Linked DNA regions of Homo sapiens: regions 2 and 3 are each linked to region 1. Evidence: fine-mapped expression QTL. A gene starts in region 1. Each other region holds a variant in brackets. All regions are shown on one strand. Distances are from middle to middle.

Region 1 (10,452 bases):
TATCGTTGGTGCCAGTCTGAACACTTTGATCTCGAAGCAATTTGTCGGAGCCCTCGTTCTCCCACCATCTGTCTACATGCCAATTGTCTTGAGGAGATTTACACACGAAGCAAATCCAATTAAATGAAGAGACTGCCCCTGGCAGCTCTAAGCATTTCTAACACAGGAAGGCCACGCTCTGGAATCCAGCGGGCATTCCCAAATCATGGCTGATTATCAGGTATTTCATCAAACAATTTCCAGTTTGCCAGCAAACCACAGGCTGACAAGACAAAGGCAGGGGTCAGTGTGATTCTAAGATGGTGCTTCAATGTTCATATTTCATTCATGACAAGCATTGCATGCATTAGAGTACAGTTTCCTTAGGAATTCAAGAGTAATTTGAACCATTCAATCTCCAGAACCAAAATAACACAAATAAGAGCAAGGGAGATAAAAGGTTTCCCAAAGAACTTTTTCTCTGAAGGTCGATAGGAGTTAGAATTATAGTCTGAAAAGATTAAGCGACACAACTTTCAATTTCCCATTCATCCAGGAAACCCTGCCTCTTCATCCAACACAATTCAGAAAACTTAAAACCGGCCAAATGTGTCTAACTAAAAATGAAGGCTGGACATGATGGCTCATGCCTGTAATCCCTGCATTTTGGGAGGCCAAGGCGGGAGGATCACTTCAGCCCGGGAGTTAGAGACCAGTCTGGGGAATACAGGAAAACCCTGTTTCTACTAAAAACTAAAATAAAATAAATTGGGGGGTGTGGTGGTGAGTGCCTGTTGTCCCAGCTACTCCAGAGGCTGAGGTGGGAGGATTACTTGAGCCCAGGAGTTTGAGGCTGCAGTGAGTTATGACTGAGCCACTGCACTCCAGTCTGGACAACAGAGGGAGACTGTCTCAGAAAAATTAAAAATATAAAAATAAAAATAGGGCCAGGCGCAGTGGCTCATGCCTGTAGTCCCAGCACTTTGGGAGGCCTAGGCGGGCAGATCACAAGGTCAAGAGATCGAAACCATCCTGGCCAACATGGTGAAACCCCATCTCTACTAAAAATACAAAAATTAGCTGGGCGTGGTGGTGCGTACCTGTAGTCCCAGCTACTCGGGAGGCTGAGGCAGGAGAATCGCTTGAACCCAGGAGGCGGAGGCTGCAGTGAGCTGAGCTTACGCCACTGCACTCTAGCCTAGCGACAGAACAAGACTCTGTCTCAAAAAAAAATTAATAAAAATAAAGACCTTTGTGAAGATCAGGCCCCCAGGGACCAGCTGGGATGCTGACTTGGTGAGGCAAGTGTGGGTGGGGGTGACTCTGGATGTGCTGGTGTTTGCAGGAGTGAGCAGCCACCATTCCTTCCAAGTTGACCTTCTGGGGCTCAGGGTCTCCAGCTAGTGGCTCTCGGGGGGTGCTTCACAGCTCCCTGAAAAATGGAAGTTCTTACTCTGGAAGTGGGGACTGTGTGTTCCTTTGCGGGTGGCTGTTGTAGATGGGTTTGCAAGCCTTGTGAGGGCCCTGTGGTTTCTGGGCGTATAGATCCCTCTTCCTTGCTATGAGCCTGCACCCCCAAGGGATACCTCACGTGCCTCGGGCCCCACTCAGGGAAAACAGGTACCAGCCTCAGCTTCCTCCCTGCTGGGTTGAAAGGCAAGGTCTGAGCCTAAGCCACCAGTGGCACCTTCGTGCCCGCCACTCGAGAGTTACTTGAAGCGAATGAGCCACAGAAGCAGAAATGCCTGTGATCCTGATTGTTTATTAATAGGGCACAGCAGCAAGTTCGTTTCCATCTGGAATTATTAGCACCACCAGTTGCCATTCTTTTTTTCCCTCAGGGAACTATTTAAGACCCAGGATCAGGCCAGTGCGCATTCCAGGGGCAGGCTAAAAGCAGCAACAAATAGGAGAGAAAAAAATTATGTAGTCTTACCAGTCACCACCACGCAGCTGGGCTGGGAATCCATGAAGACGAAGTGGGAGCTCGCGCTGCGCCTCCCTGGCTCAGGCAGCGGCCCAGCGGCCGGGCTCTGCGCGCTCTGAGCTCCGGGCACCTTCTCTGCCTGGCCGCGTGCTCGCCGGGGACCGGGGTGGAGCGGGAGCCCAACCCCTCCTGGCCGCCCGGCGTCCGTAGCGTTCTGGGCCCCGAAAGGCCAAGGATCTAGGGGAGGGTGATAAAGCAATGCCCCTTGAAAGCAGAACGATCCAGCTCAGGACAGCGGGTTGGAGCGCCAGCAGGGACTTTCTGGACATTTGAGTCTGGGTCACTTTGTTGTTCAGGATGGTTCAAAGGTGAGCTAAGGGTTTGGCTACCAGCTGTCCCGGTTTGCCTGGGACAGAAGGATGTCTGGGACGGAACACCACATGGTGCTCAAAGAGGTACTGTCCTAGGAACTGTGGGCTACCCTACAAGTCGTTTACTTAGATCTTATTTTTTCCTCTTTAGTAATCCCTGCCAGAGCCCCTCATTGTGTTTGGCCATTATGATTTGGTAAAATTTGATTGCTCTGAAAACTAATTCCACAAAATATGTGAGATGTGAGCAGAAAAAAAAGAGAGAAAACCATAGATGAATCTTATGGCGCCTGCCTTTAAAATATTGATTGCAAGCACCGCTGCCTAGGAGCTGTGGGTCCTCAGGGAAGTTAACCTCTGTGCTCAGGTTTCCTGTTTTGAGAAACGAGGATCGCAGCACCGGATCCTGTATGGATTCTTTCTGTGCCCCAGGCACTGTCCCCAGCTTCATCAGCCCTGAGGAACAGAGGCTTGCCACCTAGCTAGCGTCTGTGCAAGCTTGCTAGCTCTGTGCTCACCACCCTGCGTTCTACCTGCGAAAAGTGCTTTCTTGACACTGTGCTGGACTCCTTAAACATGCCACTGACAGTGAGCCACAGCCGTGGCATGCCACCTGGCTCTGCAGACAGTCCTCTTTTTAATGTGTCAGAATAACTGAAAAAGGCTAACATTTGAGGCTATTTCCTCTATCGAAAAAGCTGTTTTCCAATATCTTGATCTTTCGGAGAATTCTATTTAAAAACAAAACAAACTTTTGGCCAGGTGCACTGGCTCACGCCTTTAATTTCAGCATTTTGAGAGGCCAAGGTAGGAGGATAGCCTGAGGCCAGGAGTTCAAGATCAACCTGGGCAACGTGGCAAGACTGCATCAATTATTTTTTTCAAAACGTGGTATATGCCCATAGTCCTGGCTTCTCAGGGAGGCTGAAGCGGGAGGATCACTTGAGCCGTCAGTCGTAACTGCACCTCTGCACTCCACCCTGGGTGACAGAGTGAGACCCTGTCTCTAAAAATATTCTTAAACTTTTTTTTAAACTGAAAATACTTTTTTCCTGAAGCTGTATATTAAGAGGAAGAAGACCCATGATTCTCTGTCCCCATCTAGGTCTGGGGAGGAGAAGCTCCCTTCAGGGAAGCAGGCAGAGCCTCTCAAGCACCCTGCGGCCTCTAGAGAGCTCAGTGTGACAGCAGGACCACGTGGCTCCATCTGCTGAATTGTCCTCCTGATATAAAGCGCTCCCTTTTAATTGGGATCACCCCCGCGGATTAGACCCCCCTTGGTGGCTTTCTGGGATTCTGAACCAGGAACAATTCCCTTTAATTAGCTCCTGGTGTGGGCTGCAGGCCTCTTCACTGCCAACAGGTGGGAAGCGCCATTTGCTCCCACTAGTCTCCCACTCCCTGTCCTGAGAAGCTGGGCCCACCTTGCCATGAGTGGGATGCAGAGGATTTTTGTACTTTGCCTCATTTCACAGAAGTTACCCGGTTTCTCAATATACCCCGGATGCACTTGTAGACTTGGTCTCTACCTCCTCTGGTGAGCAGCTCTCCTAGCTCCTATCACTTACCTAGTTCCGTCATGGTGTGTCCAGAATCGGCGGATTCTTGGTCTCACTGACTTCAAGAACGAAGCCGCGGACCCTGGCGGTGAGTGTTACAGTTTTTAAAGGCAGCGTGTCCCAAGTTTGTTTCTTCTGATGCTCGCATGTGTTCGGAGTTTCTTCCTTCTGGCAGATTCGTGATCTCGCTGACTTCAGGAGTGAAGCTACGGACCTTCATCATGAGTGCTACGGCTCTTAAGGTGGCGTGTTTGGAGTTATTCGTTTCTCCCGGTGGGTCCGTGATGTGGCTGGCTTTAAGAACGAAGCTGCAGACCTTCACGGTGAGCGTTACAGCTCATAAAGGCAGTGCGGACCCAAACAGTAAGCAGCAGCAACGGTTATTGCAAACAAGCAAAACAACAAAACTTCCACAGCACAGAAGGCGACTCCAGCAAGTTGCTACTGCTACCTGGGGCAGCCTGCTTTTATTCTCTTATCTGGCCCCACCCACATCCTGCTGATTGGTCCATTTTACAGAGAGCCGATTGGTCTGTTTTACAGAGAGCTGATTGGTCCGTTTTGACAGGGTGCTGATGGGTGCGTTTACAATCCTGGAGCTGGACACAAAAGTTCTCCACGTCCCCACTAGATTAGCTAGATACAGAGTGTGGACACAAAGGTTCTCCAAGTCCCCACCAGAGTAGCTAGATACAGAGCGTCGATTGGTGCATTCACAAACCCTGAGCTAGACACAGGGTGCTGATTGGTGTGTTTACAAACCTTGAGCTAGATACAGAGTGCCCATTGGTGTATTTACAATCCCTTAGTTAAACATAAAGGTTCTCCAAGTCCCTTCCAGACTCAGAAGCCCAGCTGGCTTCACCCAGTGGATCCCGCACCAGGGCCGCAGGTGGAGCTGCCTGCCAGTCCTGTGCAGTGCGCCTGCACTCCTCAGCCGTTGGGTGGTCGATGGGACTGGGTCCTGTGGAGCAGGGGGCGGCACTCGTGGGGGAGGCTCAGGCCGCGCAGGAGCCCATGACGCGGGGGAGGAGGCTCAGGTATGGCGGGCTGCAGGTCCCGAGCCATGCCCCGCACGGAGGCAGCTAAGGCCCCGCGAGAAGTCGAGCACTAACAGCTGCTGGCCCAGGTGCTAAGCCCCTCACTGCCCGTGGCCGGCGGGGCGGGCTGGCTGCTTGGAGTGCGGGGCCCGCCGAGCCCACGCCCACCCGGAACTCGCACTGGCGCGCAAGCGCGGCGTGCAGCCCCGGTTCCCGCCCGCGTCTCTCCCTCCACACCTCCCCGCAAGCTGAGGGAGCCGGCTCTGGCTTTGGCCAGCCCAGGAAGGGGCTCCCACAGTGCAGCGGCGGGCTGAAGGGCTCCTCAAGTGCCGTTAAAGTGGGAGCCCAGGCAGAGGAGCCGAGAGTGAGTGACGGCTGCGAGGCCTACCAGCATGTTGTCACCTCTCAGTGGGGGCTTGGCTTCCTCTGCACAGTTAAAGGAAGAGATTGGACCATTAAGAAATGCCCACTTCTTCTTTTTTTTTTTTTTTCAGATGTAGTCTCGCTCTGTTGCCCAGGCTGGAGTGCAGTGGCGCGATCTCGGCTCACTGCAGCCTCCGCCTCCCAGGTTCAAGCAGTTCTCTCCCTCAGCCTCCGGAGTAGCTGGGATTACAGGCACCTGCCACCAGCCCTGGCTATTTTTTGTATTTTTAGTAGAGACAGAGTTTGACCATCTTGGCCAGGCTGGTCTTGAACTCCTGACCTCGTGATCCACCTGCCTCGGCCTCCCAAAGTGCTGTGATTACAGGCGTGAGCCACCGCGCCCGTCCAGAAATGCCCACATTTGTAAAGTTGGTTGCTGCTAGGGTCCAACTCTGCTATCAACATTCACCTATGAGGTCTGGGAATGGGAACTTGTGTTTAAGGAGACTCCTTAAGTGCAAAGACTGCCCATCTTTAACCATACTACTTTTCTGATAACAAAGCTGAAATTTTCATCATTTTTTTTTTGATTTGACAGGAGCTATTATTTTAACTAAACTGGAATGTGTCCTGCAGTTTTCACTTTCCCATAATTCACTTATTTTTTTCTGTTCTAAAGTTTTCTCTAATTTTGAAATTAATAGAAAAAACAACACAAAATATTTTACTTAGTCACAGTGATATGTCTATTTTTGTATTCATTCACCTCCCCTCTCCCCACACAAGAACCCCCCAGCACATTCCTACTTTCTGGAATGAAAATAGCTCTGAGAAGTATGGATTTTGAGGTTCAACATCTGCACTTTTATTTCTTTTTCCATTGTAAAAACAAATGGTCTCTAATAATTGATGTCAAACACAGTCTTTAGGCTGATGAAATACAGTAAGCCTGAGAACGAATAAGGCAACTAAATGGAGCTGTTTTATTTAACAGAGAGCACAGTGATCTTCCTTACAAGCGGGATTCCCGAGAGGAAAATGTTTGTAATCAGATTTGACTCTAGGATTAAGAGGGCAAGGTGCGACCCTCTTAGTGAACCGGAAAGTAAGCAACGGTACACAAGTGTTCTCACCAGGGACAGCAAATGGGAGTTGCCAAGATTACAAGATCCCAAGACCTCAACTATTTCACGTGCTGAACTAAACTCAAAACTTTGTGGGATTTGTTTTAAATTTCTCATTGGCAAGTGGTGACTTCCTGCTCTCGCAAGAAAAAAGATTAAAGGGGTTTGTTTACTGTCTCTGACACAAACAGCTCTTACAACACATTTTGTACACTTGACATAAATGAAATTTAATCAAACTGGTCAAATTCCTTTGGGAGGTGGGGAGAAAATAAATCAATCAGCAAGAAGCACTTGTGATTTCCAAAATAATGATAACATAAGTCTTTCTCCATGTCAAACATCACTGTTTCCAGATAAGCGACTTAGCTCTACTATAAAACACAACCCATAGCCAAATTGCTTCTTGTCAAAGCACTAAGGGATCCTCCAATAATGTCACTCTACCAAGGCAGATTCAGAACTCACCCTCCTCTATACCTCTGCCTCTGCAGCTTTGTACCCCAGCAGGGGCCAGCCAGCACACGATTTCTGAAAAGGGCCATAAAATAAATGAATAAATGTAGTAGACTTTTTTTTTTTTTTTTTTGAGACAGGGTCTCACTCTGTGGCCCAAGCTGGAGTGCAGTGGTGCAATCTCGGTTCACTGCAACCTCCGCCTCCCGGTTCAAGCAATTCTCGTGCCTCAGCCTCCTGAGTAGCTGGGATTACAGGTGTGCACCACCACACCCGGCTAATTTTAGTAGTGCCTGTAGTCGCAGCTAATCGGGAGGCTGAGGGAGGAGAATGGCGTGAACCTGGGAGGCAGAGCTTGCAGTGAGCCGAAATCGCATGCTGCACTCCAGCCTGGGCGACAGAGTGAGACTCTGTCGCAAGGTGATATTTCTGTTACATTTTGTAGGAGAAGGATTTGTCTTTATTTTTCTTCTGTCTTATATTTTTCCCTCAGACTTTTGCTAAGCCTTGATCACTTTTTTTTTTAGGGACTACAGCTCCTTGACTGCAAAGTAACAACTGTTGCAAAAGGAAGTTTTCTACTTGTTAAAATCCAGTAGCTTGTTACCCCTATTGTTTAAATACTGGATTTTTCTTTCAAATTTCACAAATATCTTAGGAATGACTGGAACATTTGTGTTCTTAACACTGAGGAAATTCCTGTGTAGACAAATGAGGCCAGATGGAGGGTGCAGCAGAGAGCTTAATATCCTCTTGGAATGGAAGAGGGGCCACACTAAAACATGCACCAGGCCTTCGAGGGGCCGCTATTTTCCAGTATACACATGTAAGAGGCATTTTTCTTTTTTTCTTGACTGGGGCCAAAGGTAACTTTCGTGTCAGAAGTGAGTGCTAAGTGGCTGAGTAGGTTTGAGGAAGGCTTAGCGATCCAGCTTATTTATAGACAATCCGATTATAATATTTATGATCATTGATTTTTAAAAATTACTGGACCTCTTAAAAATGGTTAGATATGAGACTGGTATATACTGAAGCTAATAGCTTTCTCTTTTTAAAGAGATAGTGTTTCTCTCTGACGACACACAGGCTGGAGTGCAGTGGCACTGTCAGAGCTCACTGCATCCTCAAACTCCTGAGCTCAAGCGATCTTCCTGCCTCAGCCTTCTGTGTAGCTGGGACCACAGGTGTGTGCCACCATGCTTGGCTAATTTTTCAATTTTTTTTTTTTTGTAGAGATGGAGTCTTGCTATGTTGCTCAGGCTGGTCTTGAACTCTTGGCCTTAACCAATCCTCCTGCCTTGGCCTCCCAAAGTGTTGGGATTACAGGTGGGAGCCACCTCTCAGGGCCTAAGAGTTTTCTTATATATCAGCAATAACTAATTCTAATGTAATTGGAGAAAAGAGCCCATCCACAATGCCCTTCAAATATCAGAAATCTCTAGGAATAAACCTGGCAAGAAATGTATGAGATCCTTTTGTGGAAAACTGTGGAACTGGCGGGGTGCGGTGGCTCACGCTAGTAATCCCAGCACTTTGGGAGGCCGAGGCAGGTGGATCACCTGAGGTCAGGAGTTCCAGACAAGCCTGGCCAACATGGTGAAACCCTGTTCTCTACTAAAAATACAAAAATTAGCTGGGCGCGGTGGCTCACGCTAGTAACCCCAGCACTTTGGGAGGCCAACGCAGGTGGATCACCTGAGGTCAGGAGTTCCAGACAAGCCTGGCCAACATGGTGAAACCCCATCTCTACTAAAAATACAAAAATTAGCCAGGTGTAGTGGTTCATGCCTGTAATCCTAGCTACTTAGGAGGCTGAGGCAGGAGAATCACTTGAACCCAGGAGGAGGAGGTTGCAGTGAGCCGAGATCGCACCATTGCACTCCAGCCTGGGCAACAAGAGTGAAACTCTGTCTCAAAAAAAAAAAAAAGAAAAAGAAAAGAAAAAAGAAAAGAAAACTGTGGGACTTTAAGAAAAAAACATAGAAGACCCGAATAAAACAAAGGATGCCATGTTCTGTAATGGGAAGATTCGAAACTTTAAAAATGTTAATGCAAACCGATGTTAAAGACTAGATGCAACTGGCTTGCCTTCCCAGATATCCAAATATATGCTAAAAGCTAGGGTAATTAAAATAGTGCAGTGTTGTTGTAGAAATAGGAAAACTGTCAATAAAACAGCTAGAATGTGTATGAGAATTTAATATATAGTTAAAGAGATAATTCAAATTAGTAGCGGAAAGAATATACCATTTAATGGTGTGGGAACCATGAGATATAGCTAGATCCATTCCTTATGCCATATAGGTCAGTAAATTATGATTGGATTAAAATTCAAATCTGAAAATCAAGACAGTAAAAATACTGGAAGTAAATTTAGAAGAATTATTTTCTAGTTTTGGAGTAGTTTCAAAATACTCATGCGAGACGCAAAACTCAGAAACTAAAAGGAAAAGAGGAGGTATTTGACTAATACTGACTTTGGATATAGGAGTTGAATGAGAAGCAGGGAACTTTTCAGTTCATTATTCTTTATATATACTGTATACACACACACACACATACATATTTTAAAAGAACTGTTCAAGCTCTATACATGTAATTTTTTTTTTTTTTTGAGACAGAGTCTCGCTCTGTTGACCAGGCTGGGGTGCAGTGGCGCGATCTTGGCTCACTGCAAGCTCCGCCTTCCGGGTTCACACCCTTCTCCTGCCTCAGCCTCCGGAGTAGCGGGGACTACAGGCGCCCGCCACCACGCCCGGCTAATTTTTTTTGTATTTTTAGTAGAGACGGGGTTTCACCGTGTTAGCCAGGATGGTCTCGATCTCCTGACCTCGTGATCCGCCCGCCTCGGCCTCCCAAAGTGCTGGGATTACAGGCATGAGCCACCGCGCCCGGCCCTATACATGTTATTTTTTAAAAACAAGAGAACTTTAAAAAATGTAACAAAAACGTACATCAAAAAATGTATACTTCAGACCTTGAAGAAATATATTCTACATTTTTACAGCAGACATTAATGAACCTTTAGTCCTGTGTGCCTGTGGCTGACTGCCACAATTACTACTTGAGACCGTCACTATGACAGTTATTACCGTTACTACTTGAGACCGTCACTACGACAGTTATTGTTACTACTTGAGACCGTCATTACAGGACTGAACGAAAGGACAAACGTAGAAATGATTAAAGAAATCTGTTTTAAAGGAAGGGGAAACCGGGAAGAAGGGAGCTCCCTGCTTCTAGTGAGCGAAGGCAGCCCCCCGAGCTTCCACAGCCCTTCGCATTCATTGGGAGAATGAGCAGGGAGGAGGCCCTAAGACTGGTCAGCTGTTTGATTATCACAAGTTCTCATTACTAACAGGCTTCAGTTGTGTCTAATCCTAAACACTTGCACCTGGGTGGTGACTGCCCTCAGCAGTCCTTCTGGGCGGCAGACACAGGTTGTCAGTTTGCCAACACCCTGCTCTCATGAGAAACAGTTTGCTGCTTACTCACGTGGCCTCCAGTGGTATACTGAGTTGATCACGACCCTCAATCTTTCGGCCCCTAAGAGCCGCAGGGGGGTGGGGAGGTGCCAGGCTGCTGAGGCCTTTGGGTTCCTAGGCTGCTGGCATTTTAAAACCACCACTGTAT
Region 2 (10,452 bases), 53 kb before region 1:
GATACTCTCTCCCTTTTAAGTGATTCACAGTCAATTGATGAGAAGCCTGATTAGAGGAGTGAAGTATCCTCTCATGTTCACAAGTCCCACCCGTACTCAAGTGAGGGGATTATATGGGATATTTACACCAGGGGCAACGATCTTGGGGGGCATCTTAGAATTCCATAGTCTCAGAAATCATTGTCCCTAATCAAACAATCAAGGTGCTATTTTTGTTTCAAAGCACTTTGAGTGTTGCTACAAATACTGAATCCCTAAGCTCCTTGTAAATGGCCGGCCAGCGGAGGGCATGGGGTGGGGAAGACTGGATACACACCCCTGTGCTCTGGGAGTACGTTGGCTGGGCGGCATGCTCATTAGCTGCTGCTTCCGAACATAGGTTCAGCTGAAGTGTATCCCAGGCAGTGGACACTTCGTGTGGAATTCAGAAAGGTGGCGCAGGAAGGATACCAGGGAAAGCCAGAGTGAAGGCATCACCCTTGCACAGCTAGCACATGTGGGGGCTCCCATTGTCCCATCAAGGCAGGGCCAGAACCAGAAAGTCGGCTGGTGCCCTGGGCCTGGGCCAGTGATGGGAGGCTCCTCTTCTCTGAGGGTGGCACCTACAGATGCAGTGGCACTGGGTTTCCTGGAGCCCTCATCAAGGAAACTTCCCAGCATGGCCTCTTCAGAACTCCACAATCCAAACTTGGAAGAGACTCGAAAGACCACTTAGTACCTTTTCTTGCCCAGTATAGAAATTCTTCTTCTCCCCTTCTGTGTTAGTTTTTTATCGCAGTATAACAAACTACCCAAAACCTACTAGTTAAGAGCAACAGTAAACATGTATTATCTCTCAGAGGTTTCTGAAGGCGAGGAACGCAGGAGCGGCATAGCTGGCTGGCTCTGGCTTGGAGCCCTTCTCGCGGTTGCAGCCCAGCTGTCCGCCGGGGCTGCAGTCATCTGAAGGCTTGCCTGGGGGAGGCAGACCCACTTCCAAGGTGTTGCTGCATAGGTAGTATGCCCTGCATGAATCGCCCTGTTCTACGTGGGCCTCTCCGTAGCACTGCCCAAGTGTCTCAGGATGTGTAGCTGGCTTCTCTGAGTGCAGAGTTCGGCACACTCTTTCTCTAAAAGGCCGGCTAAAAAAATGTTTTTGGCTCTGTGGGCCCATACGACCTTGACTGTGACTACTGGACTCTGCCACTGTGGAGCAAACACAGCTGTGGGCGTCACATAAGCTAGCGTGGCTGTGTTCCAATACAGCTTTATTTTTAATACTGGAATTTGAATTCCACATCATCCCTGTGTTGTCACAAAATATTCTTATTTTGAATTTCTTTTAGCCATTTACATGAAAACCATTCTTAGCTCATAGACCTTGGAAAACTAGGCAGCAGGCCAGATTTTACCCACAGGTACATAGTTTGCCTGCTGTGCCCTAGAGTAAAAGATCCAGGACCTGAGCAGAAGGCACGACGTCCTTTCTGACCAAACCTCAGAAGTCACACTGAGGCTCTCACCTTCTCCTTCAGGTTACACCATGTGAGAGTCAATCACGTGGGGATGTGAGCTCCAGGACACAGGGGAGAGGACCACTGGGGATCCGGGAGCCTGGCTACCCCCCAGTACCCCACCAACACACACACACACACACACACACACACTGCCCCTCACAGGTGACCATCTGCTCCACACTTTGAGCAGCGCAGCCACTGTTTTCTTGCCAGCCATTATGAGAAAAATCATGCTTTCAAGTCTGAATATAAGCCATGGAGTAAGAGGTCTGATGACCACTGAATCTGCATAAAGGTACAGTGCTAGAATCTAGGCTAATACTAGAACTGGTGGTATTTTAGCAAGCTTAGAAACAGCCCATGAAAGCAGGTGTGAGTTCTGCTTCTGTGGTTTAGGGTGGGTGAGGGAGAGCGGTATTGTTCTGTGCTTTCTCTTTGACTCGGGTAAACGTTTATCTACAAGAGACTTGTGGGATTCTTACTTGGTCCACCTCCAGGTGACTGGGCTTTTACTATTAATGTAAACTGCCTGGGACGCAGCCCCTGCCATGGGAAACGCAGGGCACTTCCTGTTCTCAGCATAGAGTGACAAGGAAATTTACTCAGAGCGGTTACTCTGACATTCAATGTTTAGTTCAGGAGGCATTTCTGCTTTGCCATCGAGAATTTTTCTCCCTTCTAAGAAAATGTTTTCTCCTGAGAAAATTTTTCTCCCTTCCAAGAAAAGAGTAGAATGAAAGGAGGCAACTTGGTTTCATAGGGAGTGTCATGTTGTCCTTCTGAGTTTACTGATGAGCTTACCTGAGAAAGGAGGGTTCTAGCATGGGAGTTCTGTTGCTACAAGACATGAAAGAATGGCCTCCGTTTATCCCGGAGAGGAGAGTCCCTGAGCCCTTGGGAGTTGCCTTGAAACCTCTGCCGGGTCCCAGGTGAGAAAGTGTGTGAGTTGTGTGGTTCTGAGATCTGAACAGGCACCATCTGGTGACACTAGGGGCTGAAGGAGCTCGGTGGCTGCAGGTGGACTGGAGCTCACCATCAGGAAGTAGCCAGATTCTCACCCCTCAGTGTCACCGAGTGTTCTGGCTTTAGAGGAAGGACTCCGTGGTCCCCAAGCCACAAGGTGTCGAGGTCTGAGTCTCAACGCCATGACTCAGTGTGAATTAACTTAGCAGGTATCACAACATCAGATTTGGGTTGTGGTTCCCTGCTGGGTCTGTACTTTAGATTGATGACAAAGCCCGTCCTCAGCCTTATTTCAGCCCAGATCTCGGTATTTATGCCACAGATACTGTTGAGCTCCTCTGGGTGCGTGCTGACCCTGAGGTCACACAGATGAGCCAGGAGTGGCCCTGGCTTTCAGGAAACGTAGTGACGTAAAAGGTCCCGGCTGCTGCGGGATAAGGGCCAGGGCAGAGGTGTGAACGCAGCCGTGGAAGACTTGGGCCAGGAAGCCATTTGTTCTGCTGCTAACACTTCCACAGCTCCACGTGTCCAGACTGTTGCCAGAGACGTCTTTGGTCTACAGGATTCAGGAGGGAATCTGAACTTTAGCCTGGAGCATTATCAACTCATAGATGAGTCTGAAACAAACTTAGTGAAATCTGATGTTTTTTGTAGTTTTCCAGTACAGTTTTTCCCATCGCTGGAATCCTGGTTTGGTTCTGCGGGAATCGAGTGCTTGAGTGGGACCCAGACAGACAGGAAGGGCGCTCCTGCTCAGTTAGCCCCAGTAAGCTCACTGAGGCACACAGGCCCCATGTCCACAGCCGCTCCTGGCTGAGGCGTGGTTCCTAAGACGACCCTTACTGTTGAGGGCTGCCAGGAGGGAGAGACACATTCAGCCCCGCAGGTCCTCTGGGAATCCGGTGAGCGTCGGCACCGGGCTGGGGCCGTGCTGATTCCCGGCAGCGTGTGGGAATGTGCGGGTGCCTCGTGGCCTGCTGACATCGCACACAGGTCACAGCCTGTCCAGTTCAGGACATCAGGGCCAAGAGTGAAGTGAGAATACGGAGGCACCTCTGTGTGCTCACCCTGCTGACCGTCACCCAGCCTCCGGGGGGGGTCACAGCTGGCCCCCAGGAAGCTGCTTCCCAGCAGGGCAGGAATTCCATTTGAGTCTTGTCCCTGTTCCAGGAGAAGGGCTGGGTATGTGTCCCCCAAAGGGGAGAGCATTCGAGAAGGATGGCGCCAGCCTCCCCAGAACTGACCTGTGGTTAAAAAAAAAAAAAAAATTGTGCTTTTTAAAAGATGAGTTTTATCAGCTCACACATCCTTCTAGAGTCTAATGGAGATTTTTTGTGTGTGTGGAAATAGTAAACAAGGTCTTGAATCCCACAGAGCAAAAAAGACTTCCTTTCATGGGCAGCACTGGAAGGGTTGTTACTCTGGAATGGTTTAAAAGAGGCGTCACATGGCTTGTTTGTGCTGATGTCACTGCCTCGCTGCTCTCCTGTGGCACCTCCTCGGTCCCTGGCCACAGGGCACAGAGCCAAGCACATCTCATGCTCTTGGCCCAGTTACGCTTCTGCCCAGGGGTAAGTCAGCTGGAGAGGAATTCACAGCCCAGGCATTTCATGTCGTTATGGCCTATTTTAATTTTTTTAACCCCAATCATTTTTCTTAGGAAGTGATGGGGAGTTTGGAAAGGCAGGCTTATTTGTCATCAAGCTGCCAGCTTTTATCAATGCAAACCACATCCCTGTGACATCTGTGACTGTTCCTTGGACAGTTAGGTGAGGGAGGGTCTCCTGGTGGCCCCAGGGTTACTCTTATTTAGGTTGAGAAAAATTCCTTTTTCCAGGATCGTTGGTGATCAAAGTGTAGTCATTCTGTTGCGCAGAGAACTCCATCCCAGCTCCACCCTCATGAATTTTGTAATCTTGGACAAATTATTTAGTATCTTAGTGCTTCTGTTCCCTCATCTGTAACATGGGGGTATATTATAGTCAGTAGCACCTGCTTCACAAACTCGTGAGGACTTCAGCAGTTCACACACATAACTGCCTCGCTGCCTGGCACCTAGCGTGCACATGGCATTCTACCGTGGGGTAGACTTTTAAAATTCTGGCTACAGAGATACTTTTCCATAAAAGTGGCCACATGGAACTCTCCAAATCTAAGAAGCATACTGTGGGGGCCTTCATATTTTGTCTAATTCTTTTCTCCCCAGAACAGGAACCTGCACCCTTCCTTCTTTTAAAGGGCGACGTGGTAAATAAACATTTTTAGACTTGCAGGCCACAGTCTCTGTCCTAATGTCCTCAGCTGGTAGTTGTAGCTGGAAAGCAGCTGCAGCCCACATGGAAATGAGGGAGCGTGGCCCCATGCCAGTGCAGCTGATGTAGAGGCGGGCAGCCCCGGGTTAGGCCCTGTGGAGACGCAGGCCCCCGGGCTCTAGAACGCTGAATTCTAGTGAATTCTGGATGGCTCTCCCTCACACCCAGGCCCACCCTCCCTCAAGGTTGCACCTTCTCCACCTGAAGGAAGCTGCCAGGTGGCCATAGGAGCCCTTCTCTTGGCAGGCCAGCTTCCAGGCCCAGTGGCTTCTCTTACATCAGGGGCCTCCCCTTGGAATGTTCCCTGAAGGCCAGACACGGGCAGGTAGTCTGTGGTCAAGCAGCCACCCTGACAGGAGGCTAGATGCCACTGGGTGTGCTTTGAGTTTCCTAGATGTGGAGAGTTCTGTGTGGCCACTTTTATGGAAAAGCATCTCTTTAGCCAGAATTTTAAAATAAAGAGGATAACTTCCTGGTGAGAACAGACGTGGAAAGGAAGGCACTTTGGTTTCACGCTCATGTAAGAGAGGGCTGTTGGCGGTCACTCCTCAGAACTATGGCCAGCCCTGGATGGTAGCCAGCTGCTTTTTGCCCCAAAAGTCTGTTTAGCTGGGTCTCTGCATTCTGGAAGCTTGTCAAAGCCCGGGCCTTTCCTGGGTCAGGGCAGCCGGCTTTCCTTGTCCACGTGTGGCCGGCTGTTTTCTTGGGGAGCCCCGGCCACAGCCGGCAGGACTCCCTTTGCTCCATGTGACTCTGAGGGCCTCACAGGTATTTGCAGCCCAGGTGCTGTCGGAGCCCAGCCGATGCGACCGACACACAGCACAAGCGTCATCCTGTTCTGCCTGTCCCTTGCGTGTGGAGGGGACTCGTGCCCAGGGCTCTCCTTGCTGGCTTGTTGGAATCTGGCTTCAGGTCTACACGGGGCCTCTCGTTTGGTCCAGAACAGCCTGGCTCATCGGCTGGGGCTTGCTTGTGCAGGGCTGGAGCGAGCACGTGCTAGATGGAGACAGCAGACTCGGAGTGTGCATTTCTTCGTGTTGCAAGCCTGGCCTCACAGTGCCTTCTTCCTTTGGTTGTCTGCCAGGGGTAGCCCTGCACCAGGAGGAAGCTTAGAAATAGCACAGGTGGGAACCGGAGAGAGAGCACTGTTGGGGAAGCTGCGGTCACTCATCAGCCTTCCTGGTGAGAAACCAGGGGTTTCCTGCTAATTCTGGAAAGGATGTTTCAGCAGTGCCTGCATGAGACGCCTCAGATAGAAAACTGGTTATTTTTGTTTCTTAGCACTGCCACCATAGATAACAGCTGTCACGATGGACAGTGTGGACCTGGATTAGTCCTTCTTGGGAAAGGAGAGTTTGGGTTTTGTACCGTGGTGGTTCTGGGTTCTGGGGGAAGAGAATGGAACCGTACGAGGTAAAACAGGAGACTCTGAAGGCCACTTGGCCATCCAGGCAGAAAGCCAGGGATGGAGAGGGGCAGCAGGGCTGTGTTCAGTGCTCCCGCCGTACGCTTGTATGCGGGAAACCACTGCAGGCGGCCCATGAAGCCTCCTGGCCATGTGCGCCCTCCCGGTTTGGACCCCCTCCCGTGTGTCTTGGCTGCAGGTTTGAACTGATGCGCATGTGCTGGCAGTATAACCCCAAGATGAGGCCTTCCTTCCTGGAGATCATCAGCAGCATCAAAGAGGAGATGGAGCCTGGCTTCCGGGAGGTCTCCTTCTACTACAGCGAGGAGAACAAGCTGCCCGAGCCGGAGGAGCTGGACCTGGAGCCAGAGAACATGGAGAGCGTCCCCCTGGACCCCTCGGCCTCCTCGTCCTCCCTGCCACTGCCCGACAGACACTCAGGACACAAGGCCGAGAACGGCCCCGGCCCTGGGGTGCTGGTCCTCCGCGCCAGCTTCGACGAGAGACAGCCTTACGCCCACATGAACGGGGGCCGCAAGAACGAGCGGGCCTTGCCGCTGCCCCAGTCTTCGACCTGCTGATCCTTGGATCCTGAATCTGTGCAAACAGTAACGTGTGCGCACGCGCAGCGGGGTGGGGGGGGAGAGAGAGTTTTAACAATCCATTCACAAGCCTCCTGTACCTCAGTGGATCTTCAGAACTGCCCTTGCTGCCCGCGGGAGACAGCTTCTCTGCAGTAAAACACATTTGGGATGTTCCTTTTTTCAATATGCAAGCAGCTTTTTATTCCCTGCCCAAACCCTTAACTGACATGGGCCTTTAAGAACCTTAATGACAACACTTAATAGCAACAGAGCACTTGAGAACCAGTCTCCTCACTCTGTCCCTGTCCTTCCCTGTTCTCCCTTTCTCTCTCCTCTCTGCTTCATAACGGAAAAATAATTGCCACAAGTCCAGCTGGGAAGCCCTTTTTATCAGTTTGAGGAAGTGGCTGTC[CCT/C]GTGGCCCCATCCAACCACTGTACACACCCGCCTGACACCGTGGGTCATTACAAAAAAACACGTGGAGATGGAAATTTTTACCTTTATCTTTCACCTTTCTAGGGACATGAAATTTACAAAGGGCCATCGTTCATCCAAGGCTGTTACCATTTTAACGCTGCCTAATTTTGCCAAAATCCTGAACTTTCTCCCTCATCGGCCCGGCGCTGATTCCTCGTGTCCGGAGGCATGGGTGAGCATGGCAGCTGGTTGCTCCATTTGAGAGACACGCTGGCGACACACTCCGTCCATCCGACTGCCCCTGCTGTGCTGCTCAAGGCCACAGGCACACAGGTCTCATTGCTTCTGACTAGATTATTATTTGGGGGAACTGGACACAATAGGTCTTTCTCTCAGTGAAGGTGGGGAGAAGCTGAACCGGCTTCCCTGCCCTGCCTCCCCAGCCCCCTGCCCAACCCCCAAGAATCTGGTGGCCATGGGCCCCGAAGCAGCCTGGCGGACAGGCTTGGAGTCAAGGGGCCCCATGCCTGCTTCTCTCCCAGCCCCAGCTCCCCCGCCCGCCCCCAAGGACACAGATGGGAAGGGGTTTCCAGGGACTCAGCCCCACTGTTGATGCAGGTTTGCAAGGAAAGAAATTCAAACACCACAACAGCAGTAAGAAGAAAAGCAGTCAATGGATTCAAGCATTCTAAGCTTTGTTGACATTTTCTCTGTTCCTAGGACTTCTTCATGGGTCTTACAGTTCTATGTTAGACCATGAAACATTTGCATACACATCGTCTTTAATGTCACTTTTATAACTTTTTTACGGTTCAGATATTCATCTATACGTCTGTACAGAAAAAAAAAAGCTGCTATTTTTTTTGTTCTTGATCTTTGTGGATTTAATCTATGAAAACCTTCAGGTCCACCCTCTCCCCTTTCTGCTCACTCCAAGAAACTTCTTATGCTTTGTACTAGAGTGCGTGACTTTCTTCCTCTTTTCCCGGTAATGGATACTTCTATCACATAATTTGCCATGAACTGTTGGATGCCTTTTTATAAATACATCCCCCATCCCTGCTCCCACCTGCCCCTTTAGTTGTTTTCTAACCCGTAGGCTCTCTGGGCACGAGGCAGAAAGCAGGCCGGGCACCCATCCTGAGAGGGCCGCGCTCCTCTCCCCAGCCTGCCCTCACAGCATTGGAGCCTGTTACAGTGCAAGACATGATACAAACTCAGGTCAGAAAAACAAAGGTTAAATATTTCACACGTCTTTGTTCAGTGTTTCCACTCACCGTGGTTGAGAAGCCTCACCCTCTCTTTCCCTTGCCTTTGCTTAGGTTGTGACACACATATATATATATTTTTTTAATTCTTGGGTACAACAGCAGTGTTAACCGCAGACACTAGGCATTTGGATTACTATTTTTCTTAATGGCTATTTAATCCTTCCATCCCACGAAAAACAGCTGCTGAGTCCAAGGGAGCAGCAGAGCGTGGTCCGGCAGGGCCTGTTGTGGCCCTCGCCACCCCCCTCACCGGACCGACTGACCTGTCTTTGGAACCAGAACATCCCAAGGGAACTCCTTCGCACTGGCGTTGAGTGGGACCCCGGGATCCAGGCTGGCCCAGGGCGGCACCCTCAGGGCTGTGCCCGCTGGAGTGCTAGGTGGAGGCAGCACAGACGCCACGGTGGCCCAAGAGCCCCTTTGCTTCTTGCTGGGGGACCAGGGCTGTGGTGCTGGCCCACTTTCCCTCGGCCAGGAATCCAGGTCCTTGGGGCCCAGGGGTCTTGTCTTGTTTCATTTTTAGCACTTCTCACCAGAGAGATGACAGCACAAGAGTTGCTTCTGGGATAGAAATGTTTAGGAGTAAGAACAAAGCTGGGATACGGTGATTGCTAGTTGTGACTGAAGATTCAACACAGAAAAGAAAGTTTATACGGCTTTTTTGCTGGTCAGCAGTTTGTCCCACTGCTTTCTCTAGTCTCTATCCCATAGCGTGTTCCCTTTAAAAAAAAAAAAAAGGTATTATATGTAGGAGTTTTCTTTTAATTTATTTTGTGATAAATTACCAGTTTCAATCACTGTAGAAAAGCCCCATTATGAATTTAAATTTCAAGGAAAGGGTGTGTGTGTGTGTATGTGTGGGGTGTGTGTGTGTGAGAGTGATGGGACAGTTCTTGATTTTTTGGGTTTTTTTTCCCCCAAACATTTATCTACCTCACTCTTATTTTTTATATGTGTATATAGACAAAAGAATACATCTCACCTTTCTCAGCACCTGACAATAGGCCGTTGATACTGGTAACCTCATCCACGCCACAGGCGCCACACCCAGGTGATGCAGGGGGAAGCCAGGCTGTATTCCGGGGTCAAAGCAACACTAACTCACCTCTCTGCTCATTTCAGACAGCTTGCCTTTTTCTGAGATGTCCTGTTTTGTGTTGCTTTTTTTGTTTTGTTTTCTATCTTGGTTTCCACCAAGGTGTTAGATTTCTCCTCCTCCTAGCCAGGTGGCCCTGTGAGGCCAACGAGGGCACCAGAGCACACCTGGGGGAGCCACCAGGCTGTCCCTGGCTGGTTGTCTTTGGAACAAACTGCTTCTGTGCAGATGGAATGACCAACACATTTCGTCCTTAAGAGAGCAGTGGTTCCTCAGGTTCTGAGGAGAGGAAGGTGTCCAGGCAGCACCATCTCTGTGCGAATCCCCAGGGTAAAGGCGTGGGGCATTGGGTTTGCTCCCCTTGCTGCTGCTCCATCCCTGCAGGAGGCTCGCGCTGAGGCAGGACCGTGCGGCCATGGCTGCTGCATTCATTGAGCACAAAGGTGCAGCTGCAGCAGCAGCTGGAGAGCAAGAGTCACCCAGCCTGTGCGCCAGAATGCAGAGGCTCCTGACCTCACAGCCAGTCCCTGATAGAACACACGCAGGAGCAGAGTCCCCTCCCCCTCCAGGCTGCCCTCTCAACTTCTCCCTCACCTCCTTCCCTAGGGGTAGACAGAGATGTACCAAACCTTCCGGCTGGAAAGCCCAGTGGCCGGCGCCGAGGCTCGTGGCGTCACGCCCCCCCCGCCAGGGCTGTACCTCCGTCTCCCTGGTCCTGCTGCTCACAGGACAGACGGCTCGCTCCCCTCTTCCAGCAGCTGCTCTTACAGGCACTGATGATTTCGCTGGGAAGTGTGGCGGGCAGCTTTGCCTAAGCGTGGATGGCTCCTCGGCAATTCCAGCCTAAGTGAAGGCGCTCAGGAGCCTCCTGCTGGAACGCGACCCATCTCTCCCAGGACCCCGGGGATCT
Region 3 (9,000 bases), 42 kb before region 1:
TTCTTGAAGCTATCAGACCACATCGAGGCTCAGCAGTCATCCGTGGGCATTTGGTTTCAACAAAGAAACCTAACATCCTACTCTGGAAACTGATCTCGGAGTTAAGGCGAATTGTTCAAGAACACAAACTACATCGCACTCGTCAGTTGTCAGTTCTGGGGCATGACTTTAGCGTTTTGTTTCTGCGAGAACATAACGATCACTCATTTTTATGTCCCACGTGTGTGTGTCCGCATCTTTCTGGTCAACATTGTTTTAACTAGTCACTCATTAGCGTTTTCAATAGGGCTCTTAAGTCCAGTAGATTACGGGTAGTCAGTTGACGAAGATCTGGTTTACAAGAACTAATTAAATGTTTCATTGCATTTTTGTAAGAACAGAATAATTTTATAAAATGTTTGTAGTTTATAATTGCCGAAAATAATTTAAAGACACTTTTTTTTTCTCTGTGTGTGCAAATGTGTGTTTGTGATCCATTTTTTTTTTTTTTTTTTAGGACACCTGTTTACTAGCTAGCTTTACAATATGCCAAAAAAGGATTTCTCCCTGACCCCATCCGTGGTTCACCCTCTTTTCCCCCCATGCTTTTTGCCCTAGTTTATAACAAAGGAATGATGATGATTTAAAAAGTAGTTCTGTATCTTCAGTATCTTGGTCTTCCAGAACCCTCTGGTTGGGAAGGGGATCATTTTTTACTGGTCATTTCCCTTTGGAGTGTAGCTACTTTAACAGATGGAAAGAACCTCATTGGCCATGGAAACAGCCGAGGTGTTGGAGCCCAGCAGTGCATGGCACCGTTCGGCATCTGGCTTGATTGGTCTGGCTGCCGTCATTGTCAGCACAGTGCCATGGACATGGGAAGACTTGACTGCACAGCCAATGGTTTTCATGATGATTACAGCATACACAGTGATCACATAAACGATGACAGCTATGGGGCACACAGGCCATTTGCTTACATGCCTCGTATCATGACTGATTACTGCTTTGTTAGAACACAGAAGAGACCCTATTTTATTTAAGGCAGAACCCCGAAGATACGTATTTCCAATACAGAAAAGAATTTTTAATAAAAACTATAACATACACAAAAATTGGTTTTAAAGTTGACTCCACTTCCTCTAACTCCAGTGGATTGTTGGCCATGTCTCCCCAACTCCACAATATCTCTATCATGGGAAACACCTGGGGTTTTTGCGCTACATAGGAGAAAGATCTGGAAACTATTTGGGTTTTGTTTTCAACTTTTCATTTGGATGTTTGGCGTTGCACACACACATCCACCGGTGGAAGAGACGCCCGGTGAAAACACCTGTCTGCTTTCTAAGCCAGTGAGGTTGAGGTGAGAGGTTTGCCAGAGTTTGTCTACCTCTGGGTATCCCTTTGTCTGGGATAAAAAAAATCAAACCAGAAGGCGGGATGGAATGGATGCACCGCAAATAATGCATTTTCTGAGTTTTCTTGTTAAAAAAAAATTTTTTTAAGTAAGAAAAAAAAAGGTAATAACATGGCCAATTTGTTACATAAAATGACTTTCTGTGTATAAATTATTCCTAAAAAATCCTGTTTATATAAAAAATCAGTAGATGAAAAAAATTTCAAAATGTTTTTGTATATTCTGTTGTAAGAATTTATTCCTGTTATTGCGATATACTCTGGATTCTTTACATAATGGAAAAAAGAAACTGTCTATTTTGAATGGCTGAAGCTAAGGCAACGTTAGTTTCTCTTACTCTGCTTTTTTCTAGTAAAGTACTACATGGTTTAAGTTAAATAAAATAATTCTGTATGCATTTCTGTCTCTGGTTTGGTTTTGTCCCTCCTGGAAGCATCACTACACTTTGGTGGCAGGGAAGCTGAGCTATGTGGGGCACGTGTGTTCACGCATGTTGCCTGGAAGCGTTCTCCAGAAAAGCATTGCCTCTTCTCTGACAGCTGAGCTTTCTCAGCATGCAGATTGCCAGTAAAGACGACAGGGAAGCTATCTGTTTCTCCCTCCATTAAATCATCTGGAAAGAAATTTGAATACATAAATTACGAAACTCTGTACTGCAGTTCCGACTGATTTGTAGACTTTTTTCCTATACCTTCCACTAACAACAGTCAGGCCAAGGCAAGTCTGATCTGCATGACCCCAAGGCAGAGGACTTCAGTTCTTCACATTTCCCATGTGCTTTTTGGTCTTTCACAGCTGACATGCCCACCTCGGGGGGATGCTGGTGAGAACCCAGTGGGCCTCACGCAGAATGTGGGTCACTGGAGGAGCTCCAAAGTCCTAGTTACTTTCTAGCTGCTGCTCAGTGATCTCTGTCTGCCCCTAGGGACCCTACAATGTAAACATTATTTTTGTCAGGGGAAATGGCATGTATGGCAAGGTGTGTTCTAGAATCAGACTAAGGATTCAGACACATCAGGCAGAGAAGCTGGTCATTTCCTTCAACTTTATCATGGGAAATTATGCTCCAATAGCAAAATCGGGCCAGTAGAAGAAGAGCTGTCCAGCAATGTATAGGTAGAAGTAAACCGAAGACCATGGTTACTTCAGACCTGTTGAGCCTCAGAAGTGTTTGCACCTAAAAGCAAAGGCCTTTCTGAAAGGGGACTCTCAGCTGGGGTGCGGTGGCTCACGCATGTAATCCCAGCACTTTGGGAGGCTGAGGTGGGTGGATCACATGAGGTCAGGAGTTCAAGACCAGCCTGGCTAACATGGTAAAACCCCATCTCTACTAAAAATACAAAAAATTAGTGGGACATGGTGGCGGGTGCCTGTAATCCCAGCTACTTGGGAGGGTGAGGCAGGAGAATCTCTTGAACTCAGGAGGCAGAAGCTGCAGTGAGCCAAGATTGTGCCACTGTACTGCAGCCTGGGTGACAGAGTAGGACTCTGTCTCAAAAAGGGTACTCAAGCTTGGCATTGCTTCAGGGTTACTGCTCAGTGTTGTCACCGAGTGCCTGGCACTCAGGGGATCTTCATTAGGTGACTGATGATGAGGAGGTCTCAATTCTGAGGCTGGAAAGCCCAACAGGGCCTCCTCCTTCCCTGGTCAGGTAGATGCTGCCCTTCCAGGTTGCCACAGTGCAGTCTGCACTTGGCCTGCCCAGCCAGAAGGAGCAGCAATATCTAAGGATGAAGGTGCTGGGTCTTCAGAAGCATTAGAACCTTTCCCCTCCAGGCCATTTCTTAAGACTGCAAGCCCTCAAGAGCTATTTCTGCATTTACCCCCCAAGTCCAGGTATGAGTCCATACTCACTCAGATGTGTGATTTTTGTAGTGTTCTAATGTTGCTAAAAAGACCTTCACATCCATTCTCTCACCAGATGTTCACAATCACCCTGCAAAGGAAGGATTTTAATTACTCTTACAGATGAGCAAACATACAGGCATGCTCAAGACCCCTCCCCCGCCCCCCCACCTCCCCACCAGCTACCAACTCAGGACTCAGCCTCTCAGCCTTTTCTGCTGTGGTTCTCAATCTGGCTTCAGCACTGCCAGAACTAAGCAGGCTCTGTGCATACTGACAAGGGATGCTGGGTGAAGTACACAGCCCAGGTGTGAATGAGACTTCTGGGGTTCTCCCTGGAGAACTTCAGGGGCCACAGCGGGGGGAAATGATGGGGAAGTTCTTGAAGAGGGAGCTCTGGGCCTCCCAACTGGATAATATCTAAAAATTTAAAAAATGTTATGGCATGCTGCCAGGCAGTCTGAAATATAACACTGGAGCCCAGTCCTGGGGGCCCCTTGCTTGCCAGTGTCCTGGGACAGAATTGCCCATAGCAGAGACAGATCTCCACATTAGCAACCATGCAGCCAGACCTGTGCACACCGCCCAGCACCACCTCCCCCCATCCCCCAATATGTGGGCTTTGATCTGTTTTCTAGCAAATGATCCAGGTGTACTTGCAAAGGGAGTCCCCTAAAGGCTACTCCAAATGCAAAAAGCGTGCTGGCGGCCTTGACTGCTTCCTTTGGTTTTCTTGTGGGTTTTTGTTTGTTTTTTTTTTTTTTTTTGAGACACAGTTTTGTTCTTATTGACCAGGCTGGAGTGCAATAGTGCAATCTCGGCTCACTGCAACCTCCGCCTCCTGGGTTCAAGCGATTCCCCTGCCTCGGCCTCCCAAGTAGCTGGGATTATAGGCACCCACCACCACACCCGGCTAATGTTTTTGTAATTGTAGTAGAGACTGGGTTTCACATGTTGGTCAGGCTGGTCTTGAACTCCTGGCCTCAAGTGATCCGCCCACCTCAGCCTCCCAAAGTGCTGGGATTATAGGTGTGAGCCACTGCGCCTGGCCTGGTTCCTTTGTTAGGAAGCTGCAAATGCTTTTCTTAATAGTGAATGAATCCAAACACTAACTGATGAATTTTTTAAATGTAGTCAAGTGAAAAATGGTAGTTGTAAGCACACCAACGTAACAAGAAATTTCCCAGAGCTCACCTACCTTCACTCACTTCCTCCAAAAAAAAAAAAAAAAGCGATGTTACCAATGGGACTCCCAAAGGAAATCTGCCCCTAGAAAACACTGAACAGGTAGAATCTTGCTGGGAGAAGCTTGGCACAAGACCCGGTGCTGTGTCATAAAAGCAAAACAAAACATGAAACAGAAAGGAGATTCTGCTTTTAAAAAGGGAAGACACCATGGAGAGAAGCTAAGCCCGGCTATTAACCTGCGCCTTCAAACCAAACACTACCAGTGTGACTGTAAAATGGTGCAGCCCCTGTGCAAAACAAAATGGCAGTTCCTTAAAAAATTAAACACAGAATTAGCATTGAATCCAGGAATTCACCTCTGGA[G/T]ATTGACCTGAAAGCAAGGACTCGGATACATATTTGCACGCCAGTGTTTGTAGCAGCATGATTTGCAAGAACCAAAAGGAGCAAGTAACGTAAGTGTTCATCTACAGCTGAATGGATGAAATGTGGTCCATACATACACTGGAATATTATTCAGCCTTCAACAGAATGAAATCCTGTCCCATGCTACAACATGGATGAACCTGGAGGACATGAGGCTGAAATAATACGCCAGATGTAGAAGGACCAGCGCCGCATGACTCCCTCATATGAGCTACCTACAGTCAGATTCATAGGGATGGAGGGTGGAGTGGTGAGCACCAAGTGCTGGGAGGAAGAAGGAATAGGGAGTTAATAGGTACAGAGTTTCAGTTTGGGATGAGGAGAAAGTTCTGGAGATGGATGGTGGTGATGGTTGTACAACAAGGAAATGTACTGTATACTACTGAACTGTATGCTTGAAATTATTAAAATGAGTAGTAAAAGGGGCAAACACAGAGACAGAGAAATCATACAGTAGAGCCTCGGTGGCTTCGAGGCTACCCAGGACCTGGACACACAAGCTCAAAGGCCAGGAATGGGGTCCCTGGAGCAGCGGCTGTCTCTGTGCTTCTGTAAGCATCTCCAAAACAGGTCTGTGGTCCCCACAGTCTGCGCAGGATCACACAGACCCACTGTGTAGATTTTTGGAAGAAAACAGATGACTCGGATTTCATTTTATTGTCATGAAAACCATAACTGAAGCTAGTTCATCCCCTGTGAAATGTCCACCTTTCAGAGTGTTCTTTCTCCTGACAATAAAATAACCCTTTGTGATTTTGTTGGGCTAATTCAGAGTTTTCCACCCTCTTTGTCTTACAAGCAATTTTTGAAAAAGTTTCTCAATGCACAGTTGAGTGCTACATACAGGATTGAAACATTCAATTTTCTCTAGAGGAGCAATCCCCCGGTCAGTTCCCTTTGGCTGGAAGGACCATGGTTGAGTTTTCTTCGAACTGGGCTCTGTGCTTGGGCTTTCCCACCTCTTCCAGCATTTCCTGGATGATGACTCTCAAGGCTCTTCCCAGCAGGCTGGCCGGGAGCCCGCGCGATAGTGGAGGGACATGGATGAGTGCCGCGCAGCCCTTTCCATGATGCAGAGACAGGTAATAGGTATAATCACAGACGTATCTGCAACCACAGGAAATGCCACATTAATTCTCGGACCAGCCTCTAACCTCAGTGAAACATACGCAGAAGTGGCAATGCAACACCCACAAAGCCTGAGGAGGGAGCACTGCCACCCAAGGGAGACTTGTGTTGTTTCACCTCAGAAAGAACATGGTGCCAGGATGAGCTGGGGAGAGCTGGCTCTTGGCCTCATGGCCTCATGACCGGCAAGTGGCCAAGGCAGAAAGGGGTCAGATATTCCACAGCACCTGCATCCCAGTGAATCCCTCTCATTCATGTCTTCGTTGAGTCACTTACTCATTCATTCACTGGGGAAAGGGGAAAAACCACCTACTGGGGATCGGAGTTTGGAGAAACAAAGGTAAATCAATCTTTATCTGGGGCTACATCAACACAGTTAACTCACAACTTCGGTCACCCCAAAAATCAAAATCAGAAAACATTCACGAAATGTTAGTGGCTCTTGAAGTCTGCCTTCCCATCTCTTCTCCTAGATCAACACACCAAAGACCGTGTTTCCACAGGCAGGTCTCACAAACGAGACCTCAGGCAAGGTGTGAGCAACTGTGCTGGCCTGCACACAGCAAAGAGGGGCAATCTGGGGGCGGCACCGCATGGCCAAGTGGCCAGCTGGACGATACAGGATGGCTTCTTGGAGGTCGGGGGGACGCTGACGGCCATTGCTTCTCTCCTACCTGCTCAGAGTCCTGACACCCACAGAGCATACCTGCCTGCATCTCGGGAAAAGATCACGTCGACACCCTCCACAGCTACGCGCTTGCAGACTGCCTTCATGCAGACCCCTGACTCCAGCACGTCTGGGCTGCCAGGTAGGCACACGCCGCCCTCGGGCCAGAAGCTGCGGATGTCGGCGTCCCGGTAGCCTTGGTTCTTGCCAGACTGTTCCAGAATGATCGCCTTGGCGGCGGTGTCCATGCCCACATGCACGACGAGCTGTGTGAACGGGTAACAGCAGAGAGAACCCAGGAAAACGAGGCCCACCCTGCTCACCAAATGTGCAGAAGGGGCCACTCCTTTTGAGAGCCCGGCTCTGTGCAAAACATCTCAAACCCCAAATCCACTGGGAAACCCCAGGATCCCCCACCAGTGTCTCCTAATTAATATGGCTGGAAAGAAAAACAGCTGGATTCTTTTAGCTGAATAAAAACTCATGCTGCATTTACATTTAAATGCTTTTTACTTCAAATTATTCTTACAGGGTAATGTATTCTCTTTTTGTGGGGGGAGGGTTGGAGGGAGGAGAGGCAAGCTAGTAAGTGGTGAGGCTACCACAGCAGAGTCTTCGTGTTTTGGTGGAATCCTGAATCTTTTTATTTTATATTTTATTTATGTATTTATTTATTTTTATGAGACAGAGTCTGGCTGTATCACCCAGGCTGGAGTGCAATGGCACCATCTCAGCTCCCTGCAACCTCTGCCTCCCGGGTTCAAGTGATTATCCTGCCTCAGCCTCCCGAGTAGCGGGGACTACAGGTGCACCACGCCCAGCTAATTTTTGTATTTGTAGTAGAGATGGGATTTCACCATGTTGGCCAGGCTGGTCTCAAACTCCTGACCTCAAGTGATCCGCCTGCCTCGGCCTCCCAAAGTGCTGGGATTATAGGTGGGAGCCACCGTGCCCGCCTCCTGCATCTTTTTTTAAATGAAACTTTAATAAAGGAAGTTAGTGGCCATCCAGTGAAATCTTCTTAGAATTTATTCAAGCTGATTATTTTTCCTTTTTGAAAAATAGCTGCCCAAGTATGTTATCAAAACATCTGGGGCATTGTCTGAATGGCTTGATAGTGTATGTTTTATTAACCTCATCACATCTGGTCCTTGTTTGGGGTTTTTTTTGGGGGGGTGGGGTTGTATCTGTTTTTTATACAGTAATTATGTCCAGATAAAATGGGCTCGTGCTATGAAGATGGGCCTCCCCTAGGCTGGCCACCCTCCCAGTCGCTCCCTGGGCACAGAGGTCCTTGCCTCACGTCCACCTTCAAACCTACCTGCCCCTCATGGGTATGTGTGGGGCCCAACCCAAGGGCCTCTCCCTTAGGTGGAAACTATTTTTGAGTCCTGGCTGGGAATAATACTTCCATTTCTTTTCCTCCTCCTTTCTCTCCAGATTTTCTATTAAGATCTAATCCATATTTTGGCTTAAACTTTTACAAACAGACCCAGAACCTTACACAATCAGCTGGGACCTTGCATGACTGGTGGGGCCTGGGGACGGGGTGCCCCTCAACCATCAACCCTAGAACCAGGACCCGGGGGTTCAGAGGCTCCAGCTCCACATCGCCAGTCCCATGCCCCACTGCCTCTGGCCATCACTTACTTGCGGCTGATGATCTTCCCAGATTCCGGTGACCCTCCGCTTAGCCTCCCTGTAATCTACAGGCAGCTCCAGAGTCCGCAGCTGCACCACTGTTTCATTCCCCAGGCCCAGCTTGGAGAGCTCCTGAGGAAAGCGGCAGGTGGACTTGCCTCAGTTGATGGGGGGGGGGGGGGGGTGGGCACCAAGAGTCCCTGAAAACCCAATCCTTGGGGTCTACTTCCAGGGGTCTTCCGCAGCCTGGACTTTGCCCTCAAGGAGCTCACAAAGTGGCAAGGGGCCAAGAAGAGAGCCACAGTTCCTACCAGAGAGGCAAATGCACACAGCAGCACCTGTCTGTAATCCCAGCTACTTGGGAGGCTGAGGCAGGAGAATCACTTGAACCTGGGAGGTGGAGGTTGCAGTGAGCCGAAATAGTACCACTGCGCTCCAGCCTGGGTGACAGAGCTAGACTCTGTTTCCAAAAAAAGAAAAGAAAAGAAAAATCCAAAGTGTGAAGGAAAAAAAACCCACCAACAACAATACTGTACCCAGCAAAGCTATCCTTCAAACATGAAGAAGAAATAAAGACTTTCCCAAACAAAAGCTGAGGAAATCAATGCCAGACCTGTCTTACAAATCTAAAGGGTTCAACTTGAAAGAAACAGATACTAACATGTAACAAGAAAACTTCTGAAGGTATTAAACTCACTGGCACAAGTAAGA

Which allele goes with the higher level. Alleles are on the strand shown, and positions count from the first base shown. SD is a standard deviation of normalised expression in the study named. Not every link is listed here.
For the expression in hippocampus of the gene that starts at base 4,279 in region 1, C is the high allele of the variant in region 2 and CCT is the other (moderate effect, 0.45 SD a copy in GTEx).

What was found. PIP is the estimated chance that this variant, and not a neighbour inherited with it, causes the effect.
Region 2: its variant is fine-mapped to the expression of PGPEP1L in hippocampus (GTEx, PIP above 0.99). The same link has a PIP of 0.9 or more in lung.
Region 3: its variant is fine-mapped to the expression of PGPEP1L in prefrontal cortex (GTEx, PIP 0.92).

Annotation. Positions count from the first base shown.
Region 1 is chr15:99,003,514-99,013,965 of GRCh38, forward strand. PGPEP1L (pyroglutamyl-peptidase I like) reads right to left here and starts at 4,279. Exons shown (of 5, transcript NM_001167902.2): 1 at 3,846-4,279; 2 at 1,916-2,143.
Region 2 is chr15:98,950,686-98,961,137 of GRCh38, forward strand. It overlaps IGF1R (insulin like growth factor 1 receptor), which reads left to right. Exons shown (of 21, transcript NM_000875.5): 21 at 6,376-10,452. The coding sequence ends at 6,757. Among named protein-coding and RNA genes, the nearest start is that of PGPEP1L, 52 kb to the right of the region's middle. The variant CCT/C (reference allele first, on the strand shown) is at 7,173.
Region 3 is chr15:98,962,738-98,971,737 of GRCh38, forward strand. IGF1R (insulin like growth factor 1 receptor) reads left to right here. Exons shown (of 21, transcript NM_000875.5): 21 at 1-1,793. PGPEP1L (pyroglutamyl-peptidase I like) reads right to left here. Exons shown (of 5, transcript NM_001167902.2): 3 at 8,299-8,421; 4 at 6,688-6,914; 5 at 5,492-5,960. The coding sequence starts at 6,896. The coding sequence ends at 5,741. Among named protein-coding and RNA genes, the nearest start is that of PGPEP1L, 41 kb to the right of the region's middle. The variant G/T (reference allele first, on the strand shown) is at 4,794.